Linked DNA regions of Homo sapiens. The protein of the gene in region 2 purifies or fractionates together with the protein of the main gene of each other region. This does not show direct contact. Each region holds a gene or a part of one and is shown on either strand. Other genes may lie near its edges.

The links. The genes of interacting proteins can lie anywhere in the genome.
Region 1: the proteins of CENPE (region 2) and TSN fractionate together in Homo sapiens (co-fractionation; one large-scale study listed by BioGRID). This does not show direct contact.
Region 3: the proteins of CENPE (region 2) and ADARB2 purify together in Homo sapiens (affinity purification with mass spectrometry; one large-scale study listed by BioGRID and IntAct). This does not show direct contact.
Region 4: the proteins of CENPE (region 2) and SYNPO purify together in Homo sapiens (affinity purification with mass spectrometry; one large-scale study listed by BioGRID and IntAct). This does not show direct contact.

What each region holds. Positions count from the first base shown.
Region 1 is NC_000002.12:121,761,374-121,765,650, forward strand, and holds part of TSN (translin), read left to right. Parts: intron 1-35; coding exon 36-151; intron 152-1,631; coding exon 1,632-1,711; intron 1,712-3,760; coding exon 3,761-3,994; 3' UTR 3,995-4,277. UniProt on the Homo sapiens protein: DNA-binding protein that specifically recognizes consensus sequences at the breakpoint junctions in chromosomal translocations, mostly involving immunoglobulin (Ig)/T-cell receptor gene segments.
Region 2 is NC_000004.12:103,142,239-103,147,293, forward strand, and holds part of CENPE (centromere-associated protein E isoform 1 precursor), read right to left. Parts: intron 3,870-5,055; coding exon 3,591-3,869; intron 3,444-3,590; coding exon 3,285-3,443; intron 3,097-3,284; coding exon 2,812-3,096; intron 2,381-2,811; coding exon 2,093-2,380; intron 1,169-2,092; coding exon 1,010-1,168; intron 1-1,009. UniProt on the Homo sapiens protein: Microtubule plus-end-directed kinetochore motor which plays an important role in chromosome congression, microtubule-kinetochore conjugation and spindle assembly checkpoint activation.
Region 3 is NC_000010.11:1,727,526-1,731,802, forward strand, and holds part of ADARB2 (double-stranded RNA-specific editase B2), read right to left. Parts: intron 1-4,277.
Region 4 is NC_000005.10:150,642,883-150,647,159, forward strand, and holds part of SYNPO (synaptopodin), read left to right. Parts: intron 1-4,277. UniProt on the Homo sapiens protein: Actin-associated protein that may play a role in modulating actin-based shape and motility of dendritic spines and renal podocyte foot processes.

The DNA of each region.
Region 1 (4,277 bases), on a different chromosome or scaffold from region 2:
AACCTTGGAGGCTAAATGTGCTTATTTTCATGCAGATTTCATGAGCACTGGAGGTTTGTGTTGCAGCGCTTGGTCTTCTTGGCAGCATTTGTTGTGTATTTGGAAACAGAAACACTAGTGACTCGAGAAGCAGTTACAGAAATTCTTGGCAGTAAGTGTCTTTATTAGTGGGATCTGCAGAATCAGGCATGGTTGCTTACTTTTTGGTGGAAAGGGTGGTTGTACTTTGTTTATTAAAACAAACAAGAATTAACTAAAAACCACTTATAGTTGTAGCTTGGTATCTGAGGATGATGCTTCCAGAGCTCTTCCAATACCCAAATCTGAGGATGTTCAAGTCCCTTATATAACTGGTGTAGTATTTGCATATAACCTATACACATTCTCCCACATACTTTAAATCATCTCTAGATTTCTTAAAATATCTAATACAGTATAAGTGCTATGTAAATATTTTTTTTTTTTTGAGACAGAGTCTCTGTCGCCCAGGCTGGAGTGCAGTGGTGCAATCTCCGCTCACTGCAACCTCCACCTCCCAGGTTCAAGTGATTCTCCTGCCTCAGCCTCCCGAGTAGCTGGGATTACAGGTGCCTGCCACTATGCCCAGCTAATTTTTTGTATTTTTTTTTTTTTTCCGAAATGGAGTTTTGCTCTTGTTGCCCAGGCTGTAGTGCAATGACGCAATCTCAGCTCACCACAACCTCCACCTCCTGGGTTCAAGCATTTCTCCTACCTCAGCCTCCTGAGTAGCTGGAATTACAGGCATGCACCACCACACCCGGCTAATTTTGTATTTTTAGTAGAGATGAGGTTTCTCCATGTTGGTCGGGCTAGTCTTGAACTCCTGACCTCAGGTGATCCGCCTGCCTCAGCCTCCCAAAGTGCTGGGATTACAGGCGTGAGTGACCGCACTCAGCCAATTTTTTGTATTTTTTTAGTAGAAACAGGGTTTCACCATGTTGGCCAGGCTGGTCTTGAACTCCTGACCTCGTGATTTGCCCGCCTTGGCCTCCCAAAGTGCTGGGATTACAGGCATGAGCCACCACGCCTGGCCTTTTCCCAAATATTTTCTATCCATAGTTGGTTAGCGCAGAGGGCCGACTCTACCTGGAAATGTAAAAGCTAAAAATAACAATGGCAAACACATTTGCACTTGCTTTAGTTTTTAAAATTGAATTTTTAAAAATTTCAAGCCTACAGAAAAATTGAAAGAATAGTACAATGAATACCTGTTTACATGCCACTTAGATTTACCACTTGTTAACATTTTGCTACATCTGCTTAATCTTCTCATTTTGTGTGTGTCTTTGTCAGCCATTTGAAAGTTGCAAATATCGTAACTCCTTTCTGAAATGCTTTATCATGTGCTTTCTAACAAGAAGTATATTCTGTGACACAACTAGATACTGTTTTTGATAGTATTTTTGAGGGAAGACTGAATTGAATTTTGCTTAAGAACTCAAAAAATCCATAGTGAGGTCTAGTTGCCAAGGTTGTGAATATATTAAAAAGCCAGTTTTTAAAAGATTCATCCTTTCTTCACTTACTTTGGGAGAAATTATGTGTATATTTTTATATTCTGAGGCTTAACTTGCATTCACAGCATGACTTTATTTTCATGTGTTTTTTAGTTGAGCCAGATCGGGAGAAAGGATTTCATCTGGATGTAGAAGATTATCTCTCAGGAGTTCTAATTCTTGCCAGTGAACTGGTAAGCTCAGTAACTTGCTGGTTGCTTTTTTGATCTTTCTGCTTCACTGTCAGTTTTTTTTTTTTTTTTTTTTTTTGAGACAGAGTCCCGCTCTGTCGCCTAGGCTGGAGTGCAGTGGCGCAATCTCGGCTCACTGCAAGCTCCGCCTCCCGAGTTCATGCCATTCTCCTGCCTCAGCCTCCTGAGTAGCTGGGACTACAGGCGCCCGCCACCACACCCGGCTAATTTTTTTTTGTATTTTTAGTAGAGACGGGGTTTCACCGTGTTAGCCAGGATGGTCTCGATCTCCTGACCTCGTGATCCGCCCACCTTGGCCTCCCAGAGTGCTGGGATTATAGGCGTGAGCCACTGTGCCTGGCCCACTGTCTGTTTTTAAAATGGGTACCAAAATTCAGAACGTCTTAATTCTTTTCTAAGCCATCTCTCGGTCACCAGGTAGTCACTGACTGGCACTGTATGTGTTACAATTTACTAGGCATCAGAGAAAAGCCAGATCAAATGATGAGTGCATACTTACTGAGTTAAGAATTTTTAACCGATGATAAGACCTCTTCCTTTTAGGGTAGTGGCAAAACATTTATTCCTGGTAACTGTTAATCCATGTAATTGTTTTGGACACTCATTTGTCTATATAACTAAGTTATTCTTATCCTTTATTCCTTTAACCACTATCTAGGGAAATTGCCCTGTAAAAGTCTAAAGAAAAAAAAAGCTGTCAGTAGCAAAATTGAGTAGTTGTGATAGAGACTGTGCCAGTCTGCAGAGGTGAAAATATTTACTATCTGGCTCGTTAAGAAAAAGTTTGCTTGTCCTTGCTCCAGAGGAAAGCAGTCCAGGGCTGGTCTGATGATTCCTTGATCTTTGGCCCTAGGTTCTTCTAGCTTCAGCTTCTTTCTTATGTTCCAGAACTGTTGCTCTAGTCACATCTTCACTCTAGCCAGCAGTAGGAGGAAATAGGGAAAATGGTATGCCCTCCCGCTTTAAGGACATTTCTTTGAAGTTGTACACACAACTTCTGTTAACATTCTGGTGCCTTGCCTGCAGGGAGGCAGAAATGGAGTCTATTGGAGTGGGTATGTGTGCATTGAAAACCTGAGGAAGATGGTGAGAATGGATGATGGGGTCCACTTGTAGGCTGTACCACTTGTCTGGCTTGTTGGAGACACCTGACCAGTAAACAGGAAGCATCTTGTTAGTATTAGTTAAGTGTAAGGTGTCTTTAGGACCATACATGTTGGGGCCGGGCACAGTCGCTTACGCTTGTAATGCTGGCAGTTTTGGAGACCAAGGTGGGAGGATCCCTTGAGGCCAGGAGTTCCACACCAGCCTAAGCAACAAAGCAAGACCCCTTCTCTATATTAAAAACAAACAAACAAACAAAAAACCCGTATGTTGACAGTGCACTAAAGGGGTAAGCCTGGAAAAGTGGAGAGGATTTTACAGAAAGGGGAATCTTTTTTATTATTTTAATATATTTTTTAAAGCCAGTCAAATGGAGCAGTAGGGGGTTGTATACTGACACCGAGAAGGGGAGTCTTGGGTTGGGTCTTGAAATCAATGTTAGTTCTCCTTCAAGACAGGGTTACACTAACATAATTTTAGATTCTTATCCCAAGTCTGCCTTACTTGATTCTAGGTGACTGGAGTTGCAGCTTAGTAGGTGGGCTCTAGAAATGTGATCATTTGGCCAAGGTTGGAAGAGGTAGTGGAGCTGCTGTGATTATTTTGTCGTTTCTTTCTTCGATATGATAGCAGATGAGCTGTAAAGATGCTTGTGTAATGTAACACTTTATTATGCAATAGCCAGTTTAAGAAATTAGAGAAATTTTAGATGTTAGTAATGTTAAATTTTACTTGGCAGAACTGGTCTCATTTTCAGTGGGATTCTTTTCAGAGAAGCTCCTGTCTTGTCTGTACTTGTGTGTACCCTGAGATAGAAGATCAGCGTGGCTGTCTAGGCTTGCGGTTCTTCTGGTTGTGATTCAGAGGAAGATGCGCTGAGAAGGAGCCATGTTGTAACAAGCCCCTGTTTTCTCTTTCCTGGTACAGTCGAGGCTGTCTGTCAACAGCGTGACTGCTGGAGACTACTCCCGACCCCTCCACATCTCCACCTTCATCAATGAGCTGGATTCCGGTTTTCGCCTTCTCAACCTGAAAAATGACTCCCTGAGGAAGCGCTACGACGGATTGAAATATGACGTGAAGAAAGTAGAGGAAGTGGTCTATGATCTCTCCATCCGGGGCTTTAATAAGGAGACGGCAGCAGCTTGTGTTGAAAAATAGGAGGCTCTCCTTGCTCCTGGCCTTGCTGACCTCAGCGGTTGCCAGGAAGGGGTGAGCACAGAGTGCCTCTTACGGTAGTTAGGATGCTCAGTTGCTAAACACTGCGCTTTATTTTCTTAACCAGTTGTGGTGTGAGTATCAGAATTGAAACACTTTTTTGGGGGTAAAAAATATAGCCTTTACATGGACAGAATTTTTTTTGTTGTTTCAGTGAATATGCCTGTAATTCAGTGTATTTCAGTTCCGTCAGAAAGTGTAAATGTTAGTTTCTTGGTAAAGTCCT
Region 2 (5,055 bases):
TGTATACGTTGTGTTTGTATATACACACACACTCCTTTAACAGTATATATGTAGGCTAAAGTCCGTAAGGAAAATGATAATTGCAGACTTGAACTTTTCAAGAACAGTACCAAATTATCTGCTTAAAAGGCTGTATCATTTCATTCTTGCCAACAGTAGTACTTGGTTCAAAGAAGGGTTCATTGCTGTAAGAACACAATACATTGAATTGCCAGGGAGAGGAATGAGCTTACTTTAGCTTCTATTTCTCTAAGGCCTTCCCTAAGTTGGTCTTGCTCCATTTTAAAGATTTCCTCTACTCCTCTTAGGCCATCATTTTCCTTAGTAACAAATCTTACATCCTGAAGGTTTTCATGAAGCTTCTGAGTCAATCTTAATTTCTGCGTTTCTACACTTTCCAGAGTTACATTCCAGGCCTCTAACTGCTTCTTTAACTGACCTGTTTGATACATAGTTTCCCTAAGATCATTTTTTACTTTAAGAAGTTGAGGCTGGGCCTGGCGGCTCATGCCTGTAATCCCAGCACTTTGGGAGGCCGAGGCGGGTGGATCATGAGGTCAGGAGATCGAGACCACCCTGGTCAACACGGTGAAACCTCCTCTCTACTAAAAATACAAAAATTAGCTGGGTGTGATGACATGCATCTGTAATCCTAGTTACTTGGGAGACTTGAGGCAGGAGAATCGCTTGAACCCGGGAGGCAGACATTGCAGTGAGCCGAGATCATGCCGTTGCACTCCAGGCGACAGAGCGAGACTCTGTCTCAAAAAAAAAAAAAAAAAAAAAAAAGAAGTTGATGTTCTTTCTCCTGAAGTTCTTGGATCTTGAGATAATCATACAATAAGTTAGGATTATCAGTAGATATAAAAAGATCAATGATAGTTTCTAAATTGAGTAGGCAAGTAAGTCTTCACTTGCCTTCAATTTTAGGGTAATTCATATCTTGTTTCATTACACAAAAAGTTTGATTCAAACTCTCAGTAACTGAGATAACTTAAAAATAAAATACCTGTGCTTTTAAGGCATCATTTGAGTGTTCTAAGTCCTTTTGCATATTTGATATTTCATTTGTTTTCTCTGAAACAATCCCTCTTAGTTTATCAATAGTTTCTTGGTGCTCCTTCAGATGCATGTGAACAATTTTTAGCTCCTCTTGTTTTTCTAGGTCCTTTATCAATAGAAAAATAAAAATAATACATTGAGAGTAGTACCATCCACATGCTATAGAAAGGTATAGGGCAGGAGGTAAAAATCTTCCACCCTCTTCTGAGGCCTCCTAGTTCTCACCCTCTAAGCTACTTTTAGATGTCAATACATTCTAGATACACTATTCCTGAACTTACCCTGTTCCCTAACAGGACACTTCACCCTTCAAATCAGCACTATAGCTCTACCACATTTTTTATTTGTGGCATAGAATTCCATGACGTGAATGTGCTGCACTTATTTAACCAGTCCCTTACCAATGGATGGTTAGAATTTTCCCTGTTTTTGTTTGTGTTATTTCATTATTGCAACTTGTTGCAAAGAATATCCTACAAATATCTTTATACAGTTGTGCAAATGTGTGGAGGATAGTTACAACTGGACTTGTGGATCAACGAATAAACCTTTGGAAAAATTTGGAAGGTATTTCCAAATATACCCTCACCAACTTTCCTCAATATTGGACCAATTTTATCTTATTTTATTATTTTTTATTTTATTTTACTTTTTGAGATGGAGTCTTGCTCTGTCGCCCAGGCTGGAGTGCAGTGGTGCGATCTTGGCTCACTGCAACCTCCGCCTCCTGGGTTCACGCCATTCTCCTGTCTCAGCCTCCCAAGTAGCTGGGACTACAGGCGCCCACCACCACGCCTGCCTAATTTTTTATGTTTTTAGTAGAGATGGCGTTTCACCATGTTAGCCAGGATGGTCTTGATCTCCTGACCTCGTGATCTGCCCGCCCTGGCCTCCCAAAGTGCTGGGATTACCGGCTCGAGCCACCGCGCCCGGCCTGGACCAATTTTATACTCCCACCAACCCTATGGCAGATTTTTCTCTTAGGACTCAATGTCATAGTTACTAGAGGTGTAGAGAGATGGTAACTCACTCTAGTTATAGTTTCTCTAAGGTTTTCCTTGAGCTGGTCTCTCTCTACTTTGAGAGTCTCCTCCACACTCCTAAGGTCATCTCTTTCTTTTGTTACAGATCTCATTTCTTCAAGGTTTTCATGTAGTATCTGAGTCAACCTTATATTCTCCGTTTCTATGTTTTCCAGGTTTAACTTCTGGGTCTCAAATTGCTCCTTCAAGTGTTCTATTTCACACATTTTCTCCTGAGTCTCATTGACAGCTGTCATCTTAAGAAACTGATATTCTTTTTCTTGAGATTCTTTCATCTGAGAAAATTATAAAGTAAGTTACAACATAGGCAGAATTTTTTTAGGAAAAGGAAGAACTGTTCCTAAAATAAGGCAATCATTTTTACATTGTAATCTAATGTATGTAGTACTTTCTTTCATAAGGGATATGAGTAACAATAATTAGATGTCATTTTCCAATTTAACAAGTCCCACTTTTTCCTGTAATTCACCATCAGAATTTCCTAAATCCCAATGAATATTTGCTACTTGAGCTGTCTTCTCTGAAATATTCTGTCTACTAACAGTTTACTGGTACTCAGTTGAATATAAGCAGTTTTTGATTCCTCTTTTATTTCCGGTCCCTTTATGATTAGAGGAAAATTAATAAAACTTAACATGAACACCGTCATTATCACCTTAACACTATTTCTGTATCCAAAAAAAAAAAAAATAAGATGGGAACTTACTTTAGCTACAATTTCTTTAGTGTTTTCTTTCAGTTGGTCTCTCTCTATCTGAAGGGCCTCCTGTACTCTTTTCATTTCCTCTTTTTCCTTAATCATAATTTGTATTTCTTCTTGACTTTCTTGAAGTCTGTTGGTCAACTCGAGCATCTTACTTTCTATACTTTGTAGTGCTGAATCCTTGGCTTTGCGATGCTCCTTGAATTGTTTCAGTTCATTCACTTTTTCCTGAACCTCACTAATTTGTTTTATATTAAATTGTTCCTCTTTCTCATAAATCTCTTGGATCTTAAACATAATTATAAAATAAGTTAATAGTCATAAAAATATGTAAACACACACACACACATACACAACTTAAGAGGAAAAGGTTGCTTCCCAAAACAATTAAGCATGCCAAATAGTAGTCTTCATAATTCAGTTAGCTACTCCAAACCCACCCATTTCCTCCCACTGTTTCTTCATCCCCAATTTACCTTGTTCTGTAATTTATCATTGATTGCTTCTAACTGCTTTTGAATGGTTGATATTTCAGTTTCCTTCTCTGAAAGATTCACTCTTAACTCATTAATAGTTTCCTCTTGTTCTTTCAGGCAACAATGAGCAACTTTAAGTTCCTCTTCAGTTTCCAGGTGCTTTATTATTAGAGGAAATTCCAATAAATTTATAGAAACATTATAACTATTTTGTTGTAATTAACTCCCCTTTCCAAATATTTAGGGTTTATAATAATATTTGGTTACAAAATATTTTTTAAAAACATGGTGAAAGATGAAACCTACTTTAGCTACAATTTCTTTTATGTTTTCTTTGAGCTGGTCACTTTCAGATTGAAGAACTTCTTGCAGCCTCTGTAGGTCATCTTTCTCCTTAGCTACAGATTTCATTTCATCATGACTTTCTTGAAGTCTTTTGGACAATCCGAGCATTTCTATTTCTATCCTTAGTAGTGCTGAATCTTTGGGTTTGAATTGCTCCATCTCACTCACGATTTTGGTAGTTTCATTGTCTTTTTCTTTCATATTTAAGGACTGTTCTTGTTTGCTTTGAGACTCCTGGATCTTAAGAGAATCATAAAACAGTACAGTTGATATCCAGAGATATTGTGTTTTAGGGGAAAATAAATCAGGATGCTTTCTAAAACAATTAAGGCAGGATTCAGTGCCTCATTTACAGAGCAATCTCTCCATTCTCCCACTCTTCCATTATTCAGGCATTTAATGCTTTTTAAAAATTGAGGTCTCACTGTGTTGTCAGCATCTTATTCGAGGCTGGAGACAAAATGATGAGACTTACAGGATCTCTCTCTTTTTGAGACTTATACTTCAAGGACAAAGATAGATATGATGTTGAATCTTACCAAATAGAGATGCTGGCTTCTCCTACGGCCCAAGTGTCAAATATAATCTATTGTGAATGATAGGAAGGGATTCCTAGAGGAGAAAGCTTTAACTGAGATCTGAAGGATAAGAGCATTAGTTAGGCAAAAAGGAGTATGGAGGTACTGCAGGTAGAGAGACCTGAGAATCTGAAAGCCATGAGCTGCGGAAGAGAGTTGCTGGAGAACAAAGAATAGGAAGAAGAATGAATTGAAATAAGACCGGCAAGATCTGCACCTAGGGCCTCATAGGCCACATAAAGGATCCTGGTCTTTATTTAAAAAGTAGCAATAAGATATTAAAAGAATGTAAGAAAGGATAACTTAGGCTTAGTATAGAAACTGGATTAGAGAAGTCTAAGAATGAGTGTGGGAAGACCAGTTAGGAGACTACTGCAGATAGCCAGGGAAAGAAATGATGTTGACTTGGATTAGGGTGGTGGCAGTGTGGAGAGAAAAGCAGGATGACTTTTAAAATACACACTCAAATCAATAAGATTTGGTGACTGGATTACAGAATAAGCAGAGAAGGAGGCATATTAGTAGGGATAGCTCCCAGATTTCTGACTAAAACAATGAGAAAGCACAGTAGTGCTTTATGAAACATTAAAGGAACAGGTTTAAAAAAGAAAATAAAACAATCTCATATTTGGTTTCACCCTTTCTTGTAATTTAGAATTATTTTTTCTAAATTATTTTTTGAATATTTAAGAAAACAGTTCTTTTCTCTGAAACATCTTCTCTCTGTTTCAATACCTTCTTGGTATTCAAGAGCAATTTTTAATTGTTCTGTTTCTAGTCATTTCATGATTAAGAGACATTAAAAAAACTGGTAACATAATTATAATACAAACATTATAACTATAACA
Region 3 (4,277 bases), on a different chromosome or scaffold from region 2:
TAATTGAGTAGCTATTATGTTTTGATATTGTAGAAAGAATAGAAATGTTCAAACTTAAAGGGGTTTACATTTTAACGGTTTAGTTTTACAAAGAACTTTCATTTGATATAATAAAGGAAATACAATAGAAATCTATTTTTGTAAGCCCATCTGATGATAATTTATATATATATATAGTGTTGAGATCACGGAAGGTTATTTTTGTTCCCTGTTCGGATTTCATGTGTGTGCCTCTGTATCTCCATAAACAATAGAAGCTCAGGAGGAAGGGCCGCGTCCACTCCTTTTGCTCATGTCATTGTGATGCCTCACTCTTTGCCTGTCTCACGGTAGGCACTGGAGATAGATTTACACATGAATAAATAAATAAATAAGACTCATGCCCAATACAGTTTTTGTCTAAAGACACATATAATGTTTAAGGCAAAATTGCAAACAGAGCAGAATTGGATAGCACGCACCATACTTTAAAATCAAGTGTTCTTTCTGTATTGGTAGCCACATAAAGCAAAATGCAAGAAAGATGAACTTTAATCAGGCACAGGAAGAGACTTGGAAGTTATTCTTTGTCTCTCTTTCCATTAAAATCCCTTCCTTCACACCAATGTGGTTGTTGTTTCTCTTTTATGATGTAAGAAGATAGATTTTTTTTATTAGTGGCAATGACAAAAAGATTTATTTCAGTTGGTGTAAAATATGCACAAAGGGAGACTTTAAACAATGATGTTTTGCAATTTTTACAATTAAGCAATTAGTGTTTCTCTCCATACTCTAAAACACAGTCACAAACCAACATTCTTTTTCATTGCCTCCCAAAGAATTTGTGCTCTCAGAGGTTTAGTGAAGATTTCTTTCTCTACATGATTTTTGTAATGTTTATATTAGACTGCTGCTGTTCTAGAGCTGGGGAGTCTTTTAATATTTCAACTTTCTCTATTTGAATAAACGCTTTTGTGCTTTACCTCTTGAGTCTGTCATCCCTCTACGTCGTGTGCATATATTAGACATCTGCACAAACACACAAGTGCACATGTTAACGGCATGCCTTCTATTCATTACCCACATACAAGAGCCCCTGTCATGATTTAACTTCCCTGAAGCAAAAATTTGATTAAAAACTCAGGTGATTACATAAAATTATATGAACTCTCACATTTGTTATACTTAAAAACAAAGAACCTTAACTTCCTAAATGGCTAATAAATATTTCCCTGCAGGTCAGTCAGTGCTGAATATATACCCATCTTTAGTTCCTGAGAGTGAAACAGTATAAGGATGTTGGAATAATGCTTTGCTACACATCAAAGCTATTATACTTCTAGAGGCAACAGCTTTTGCTCTCAGTTCAGTATCACTCAGGGCTGTCAAAGTTTCTACATTCCTCATGCTACTGTCTTGGAGTTTTTTCAAAAGCTACTGCTTATCCTAGTACTTTTCCTAGAACTCCAACAATGATGTTTATCTCAAAATTATTTCTTCTTCAGAAAAAATTGGCATAGAATTCTGAGAATTTTCAAAATTTCTCCTTGAGCCATGTATTTTGGATTGAAAACTCTGTTAGAATTCTTTGAGAGCCTGGATAGTCCTTTAAAAAGGTTATCTGTAGTAGTAACATTTAGAATTGAAGCATGAATAAAATATCTTTGTGTCTGTGGTTAAATTAGGCTACCTATGTTTTTCTTTACCTAAGGAATAGTAAAAGGTATTGTTTTTTAATAAAACAAATCATTTGTAGATCCCCAAATTTATAAAAACAATGTCCTTTTTAATTGTACACATCAGATAGTGTCTGAGCTTGTATATACTTTACATTTCTGTCCTCAGTCCTGAACACAGTCTAACACAAAGAGGGCAGGTACTTCCTTAAAGAATGTGGCTATTTTCACAGCTATAAGCCCAATGCAAGCACAGCATCTGCTCCAGACAGGGATGAGTGAACCCAGCCAGACTTGGGGTTTGGAGGAGGTCAGAATCTATTCTACTGATGTTTCTGTCATGTTTATTAAATTGCATTTTTTTCCCAAATGCAATTACACTTTTAGGAAATATTGCAATTATTTTAAAGAGAGGACATTTTTATACTTCCGGTGGACTTAAACTAATAAAACCTGCTTTTTGTTTAATCATTATCAGCGCCCTAGGTATATGCTTTGAGCTCTCCTGCTATGGGTCTCAAGTCCTGCTTCTTAGCAACAGTAAGGACCCTCTACTCGTTTGTTTTTAGCCATAAGAAGAGATTTGACTTGGGTTAGCATTTTCAGGTAGGAGGAGGCTCCAGTTTCTGAGAACTGAGCTCCCCATCCTATTTTAATACCACCTTTGAGAAGACGTATTTGAGAAATCACATCAGACATTAGGGAAATGATGAGGCAGAGCTTCTGTCTGTCGGCAGTGGGAAACAAGAATCAAAGACTTCATCTCAAATAAATGGAGCAGCACAGATTAATTAAATCGATAAATTCTCCAAAGCACATCCTGGTTAAGGGGTTTAAAGGAATTCTTTCCATTATGTGCAAATCACCTGAAGGTGTTGAGCTATCATTTGGGCATAAGATTCACTCCATCTATTAGAGGCCCTAGAGAAGTGGGTTTACAAATAGATTCTGAGCAATGTTCATTTTATTTATGATCCAAATGGCAAAACAACAGCCACAGAGAGAAACCTGGATCTGTTTTGCAAATGAGTGATCTGTTGCTGGCACCGTTAAAAAGACGTGCAGTGATGAACGTGGCCAGATTTGAGTTAGAGATCCGTAGGAGTGAGACGGTACTTAACACCAAAAATAATAACTGCCCCCTTTCACCTTTGCATCCCCACTGCTGGGTTTCTCTTTCTGATCCGTGGGAGATTTTGCTTGTACACAGTGTGGCCCTCTTCCGCGTGAGGCTTCAGCTGGTGTGACCATTTGCATCAGAACTGAATTAGCTGTTTAGTTACACAAACACGAGGGTCCTAGTTGCCCTCTGCCTTGGAAGCAGCTCAACGAAGCCACCTGAATGCCACAATTTTAAGTGTACACAGCTGAAAAAACTTTCAAAAATTTCACCTCTTAGAGAGTTGAAATAAATTTCCTTAAAATCTAAGTCACCTGAGCATTTATATCATCTTTCTCTTCGAACTTAAGCACACATGTTACTCTTCTTTTTTTATAGGAATGCATGATTTATTGGACACTATTTCTTAAGTATAAAATCCCCTCCTTAATATAAATATGGAATTTAGATGATCTGTTCTGCTATGTTTTCAGATTAAAAAACTGAACGTTAACTATTGATCATTTTTGTAATTTAAAACAGATGATACTAAATTCCAATATATATGTATTTTATAACCCAAAGAGGACTTACCAGACATTTTCCTGCCAGAAACTAGATACTAACTGTATTCATTCACCATCAATAAAATAATACAATGTAATTATTTTGCTGCTCTTCCTACTCAATACCTATGACTAGAATAAAAGGTGATTAAATATCCACAGTGCATATGGAGGGCCTGGGAAATTCAGATTAACTCTTTATTTCCAAATATAGATCGTTCTTCAGAAAAGTCTGCTATCTTTGCAAATGACCAAATTTTAGGGGCTGGAGGGAGATTGTGGATCTCTTGAAAAGCAAACATGTCAGTTTCTAAGTTGCTAATATTTGGATGTGGTTTCCGGGAAAATGGATTCACTCATAAACTTGCAGATGGAGATTCAGGGCCTACGAGCCCTGTTTGCTAGGGCGTTGCTTAAACAATGTCAGGCAAGCAATCAGATAAAATAGCCCCGTCCTCCATTCCTTTTAAATCAAATAAACGAGTAAATAAAAGCCCAATTTTAATTGCTGAACAGGGATGTCTTGATACTAAGACAGTAACATATGCAAGCAGAGAGGAGTTCTGGCTCCAAGGTCCTAAATTTCTCAATGTTCCCTTCCCTTCCTGTTTTCTAAAGTCTCACCAGAGCACGTTAGCTGTCCCTGTGAACCAAAAATTTTATAAGCATTGTTTCTTCTCTTTTTGAATGTAATGTCTCTATTTGATATTGGTATGTTCTTAATTGAGTTATATCAAAAGCTAGGAATAAACAATCGCCTTTGAAAAATCAAGTATTAAGCAGCCTCTGTTTCTCTGAGTGGAGAAAAAACTTTTAATTGTACAGATAGAGGTTAATTTAGTTTCATTCTATTTGCAAATACTTAACAACACGAATCAGGTTCTCGGCCACACACCAGGCAGAGTGCAGCCCCTGCTGCTTTTCTTGAGCTATCCTAACCACAGAGACGGCATCAAC
Region 4 (4,277 bases), on a different chromosome or scaffold from region 2:
AGGTGGTGGTGATGGGATCTTAGCGGCAGCCCAGGTTGTGCATGGAGCCTCACTGAGAGTCAGCTGACCTGGTCTTGGGCTCACATCCTCCTCTCTGACCTCTTCCTTGGCTGGGCCTCCCAGGCCAGCTTATTTCTAAAGGCCCTTCATATTCTGACATTTGAGGATTTTCTAAACCCATGGCCTTCTAGAGCCAGTAAGGAGAAAAGCAGAAAAATGCAGGGGCATTGAGAGGTCTGGAGTAATCAAACACTGAAGTGCTTTCTATGAGCCTTGCAAGGTGGGAACCGGCCAGCCAGGAGCCTGGTGCTCTCTGCAGTAACGTAGAGCCAGGTGTGAACAGAGCTCTACTCCTTCTGGCTCTGTGATCGTGGGCAGCTCACTTTACCTCTCTGAGCCGTAGATTTCTCATCAATAAAGTGTGCATAATAATAGTTTGTGATTTGTAGGTTTGTTTTGGAAATTAAATAATATGAGTAAAGTCTGTGTATAGGTGTACAGTAAGTGACCAATCAATATTAGCTACTATTGCTGCAACTGTGTCATAAGAAACACTGGCAGGACTAGAGATGTTTATCCTGACCCTGTCCCAAGGGGATCTGATGTATCTGCAAATCTCTGCAGGGCTGTCAGGCTGGAATGAAAGAGAAAACTTTTTGTTGTTGTTGTTGAGATGGAATGTCGCTCTGTTGCCCAGGCTGCAGTGCAGTGGCGTGATCTCGGCTCACCGCAACCTCTGCCTCCCTAGTTCAAGCGATTCTTTTGCCTCAGCCTCCCAAGTAGCTGGGATTACAGGCGCCCGCCACCACGCTTGGCTAATTTTTGTATTTTTAGTAGAGATGGGGTTTCACCATATTGGCCAGGCTGGTCTCGAACTCCTGACCTCGTGATCCACCTGCCTTGGCCCCCCAAAATGCTAGGATTACAGGCGCGAGCCACCGCGCCCGGCTGAGAAGACTTTTTCTCTGTGCAGCCTGGGGAGGCAGAACCACATCAAGAAAGCGGATGATGGCTGGACGTGGTGGCTCACGCCTGTAATCCCAGCACTTTGGGAGGCTGAGGTGGGTGGATCACTTGAGCTCAGGAGTTCAAGATCAGCCTGGGCAACATAGTGAAATCCTGTCTCTACAAAAAATACAAAAATTAGCCAGGCATAGTGGCATATGCCTATAGTCCCAGTTACTCAGGAGGCTGAGGTGGGAGGATTACTTGATCCTGGAAGGTTGAGGCTACAGTGAACCATGATGGTGCCACTGCCCTCCAGCGACAGAGCAAGACCCTGTCTCAGAAAAAAAAAAAAAAAAAAGTGATTGGAAGTGAATGTAAGGAGGAACTTTCTAGCTGAGGAATGTTAATTAGTGGAAGACACCTCCCGGGGGAGTGAGCTCGTCACCTGAGTATGTCAGCAGAGACTTGCACACTCAGCATGTTGTTTTGAAGATGCAAGAATTGTGTGGGAATTGGACTTGGTGACAGCCACCTCTGAGATTCCGAGGTTCTGTGTTTTGGGGCAGTAAGCTCTGCCTCCGTGTAGCTCTGGAATCTCCTGCTATTTGACCTTCAGTCAATCCCCTGTGCTAGAAGAGTATCTGACCTTTTCCAGGGAGTGGAATGGGGTGACCAATTGCCAGCTTATGCCAGGATAGCATGAGCCCTCTGTCTGTCCACCTGGGCTTCATGGCAGTCAGGCCTTGGCATTTTCATGATCTCTTTGTGGCCTCCCAACACTCATGTCAAGTTAAGGAGACTGTGGCTCTGAGAGGTACAGTAACTTGCCAAGGTCACACGGCTAGCAAATGGCAGAGCTTGGATTCAGGCCAGGAGGCCTGGTTTCTAAGCAGAGCAGGGGAGACAGACACAGCATGAGCTGAGCAACCTCTCAGAGCCCTCCAGTGTGGCTGGCACCCCATCCCTTAGGCTCCTCCCAGGGGAGCAGCCTGGCTAATAGATGGCTAATAGACATCTTTAATAGATAGGGTGATCCAGGCAGGAGAAGAGTCCTACTCGGGGGGAGTAATATCATGGGTGGGTGGGATAGGCTGTGTGCTTTCACTGTTTCTAATAGGTTAGGGGAAAACCAGGTTCGATGGAGGAGGGAAGAAGGAGGTTGGGGCCAGAAAACCTGTGGCTGCCCCAGTGGAGCTGCTGTGACGCTGCTGGTCACAGCTTCTTTGCTCTGTGTGGGCCTCCCTGCGGGTCCCATGTGGGGTCACCCGGCTCTACCCTGGGCTACTCTCTGGATCTCTGTTTCCCACCTATAAAACAGGGTGGTGATGAAATACCTCCTCTGTCAGAATTCTTCCAGCTCTGAGAGTCCATGAATTCAGAGCCTCGCTGGCAAGATGCCTGGAAAGACTGTCCCTGGAGACAGACTCAGCATGCCATGGCCAGTGCTAATGAGGGCAAGGGAGGGGAGGGCAGGGTCAGATTCCTCAAGAACTAATTAGCTTCCCACAGTAGGGAGGAGAGGGGCAATGGAGGGAGGAATTTTCTTAGCCACTGATGTTGCTGGTCACAGGCTGATCCATCCACCTGTCTGTCAATGCATTTGTTCATGCAGCATTTGTTCATTTATTATTCAACAATTATAAATTGAGCATCAACTGTGTGCCAGCTGGCCACTGGGGATAGAAAGAGAAATGGTTGCCTATGGTGATCTTATAGATTAATAGGGGACTGAACTCAGCCTGATCTCAGGACCTCAAATCCCAGACTGAACCCCGACCCATGATGACCTTGTTCCTGCCCCTTATGTCCCAAAGAGACCTTTTGGGATGAGTAGACCACTTGAGCATGGACTAGAGACCCCAGAAAGAACAGTTCTGACTCCAGCTTTGTCACCCTTGGCTTTGCAACCTTGGGGCAGTTCCTTATATATCTCTGAACCTCCGTTTCTTCTTCTGTAAAACACAGGCAAGCAATGCTTGTCTCATTGTGGTCTTGTGCAGATAAAATAAAAGAATGCAATGTTCTACAGTAGTCATTGGTGAAACTAGCTCAATTTGTTACTTTTCTAGTGTTAAAAGATGTGAATTTTAAAATGAGTATTTAAGTAAAACTAGGAAGAAATCCTGGGAGGAGATAGAAGAAACTGATTGTGATACAGAGTAATCAGGGATGGGGTGACACTTTTTACTGTATACCTTTTTATGTTTTAATTTTTAGGGCCAGGTATAGTGGCTCATGCCTATAATCTCAGCATTTTAGGAAGCCAAGGCCAGAGTATCACTTGGGCCCAGGAGTTTGAGACCAGCCTGGGCAACACAGGGAGACCCCTTCTCTACAAAAAATACAAAAAAAAAAAAAAATTGGCTAAGTGTGGTGGCGCACACCGATAGTCCAGATATTTGGGAGGCCGAGGTGGGAGGATGACTTGAGCCCAGGAGGTTGAGGCTGCAGTGAGCTATGATGGTGCCACTGCATGCCAGCCTGGGCAACAGAGCAAGACCCTGTCTCAGAAAAGTAAAAATAAAATAAAAATGAATGAATAAATAAATTTTTAGACTATGTGAATGTATTACCTACCCTAAAAAGGGGAAATATTAGTGGCGTCTCTTTATAAAATCAAAGCACATGCCTGTAATCCCAGCACTTTGAGAGACTGAGGTGGGCGGATCACTTGCGCCCACCTGAGTTTGAGACCAGCCTAAGCAACATGGTGAAACCCTGTCTCTACAAAAAAAAATACAAAAATTAGCTGAGCATGGTGGCATACATCTGTAGTCCCAGCTACTTGGGGAGCTGAGGCAGGAGAATCACTTGATCCCAGGATGTCGAGGCTGCAATGAGCTGAGATCTCATCATTGCACTCCAGCCTGGGTGACAGAGTAAGGTACTGTCTCAAAAAAATAAATAAATACAAATTAAAAAAAGCAGACGGTGGTTTATTAAAACATTTTTGTTTAAAAAAATTAGAGCACATTCCTATGCTATAATTCTGAAAGTATAAAGGGCCCTAAGGAAGGCACACAGAAAATATTCTGGGGGTTCATTTGTGCATTCAGCAATATCTACCGAGTGCCACTGTATGACAGGTGCTGTTCTAGGGGCTGTTGTTAGAGTGATAAACAAGTCAGGTGGCCGGGCACGGTGGCTCACGCCTGTAATCCCAGCACTTTGGGAGGCCGAGGCGGGTGGATCACCTGAGGTCAGGAGTTCGAGACCAGCCTGGCCTACATGGTGAAACCCCATCTCTACTAAAAATACAAAAATTAGCCGGGCATGGTGGCACATGCCTGTAGTCCCAGCTACTCGGGAGGCTGAGGCAGGAGAATCAC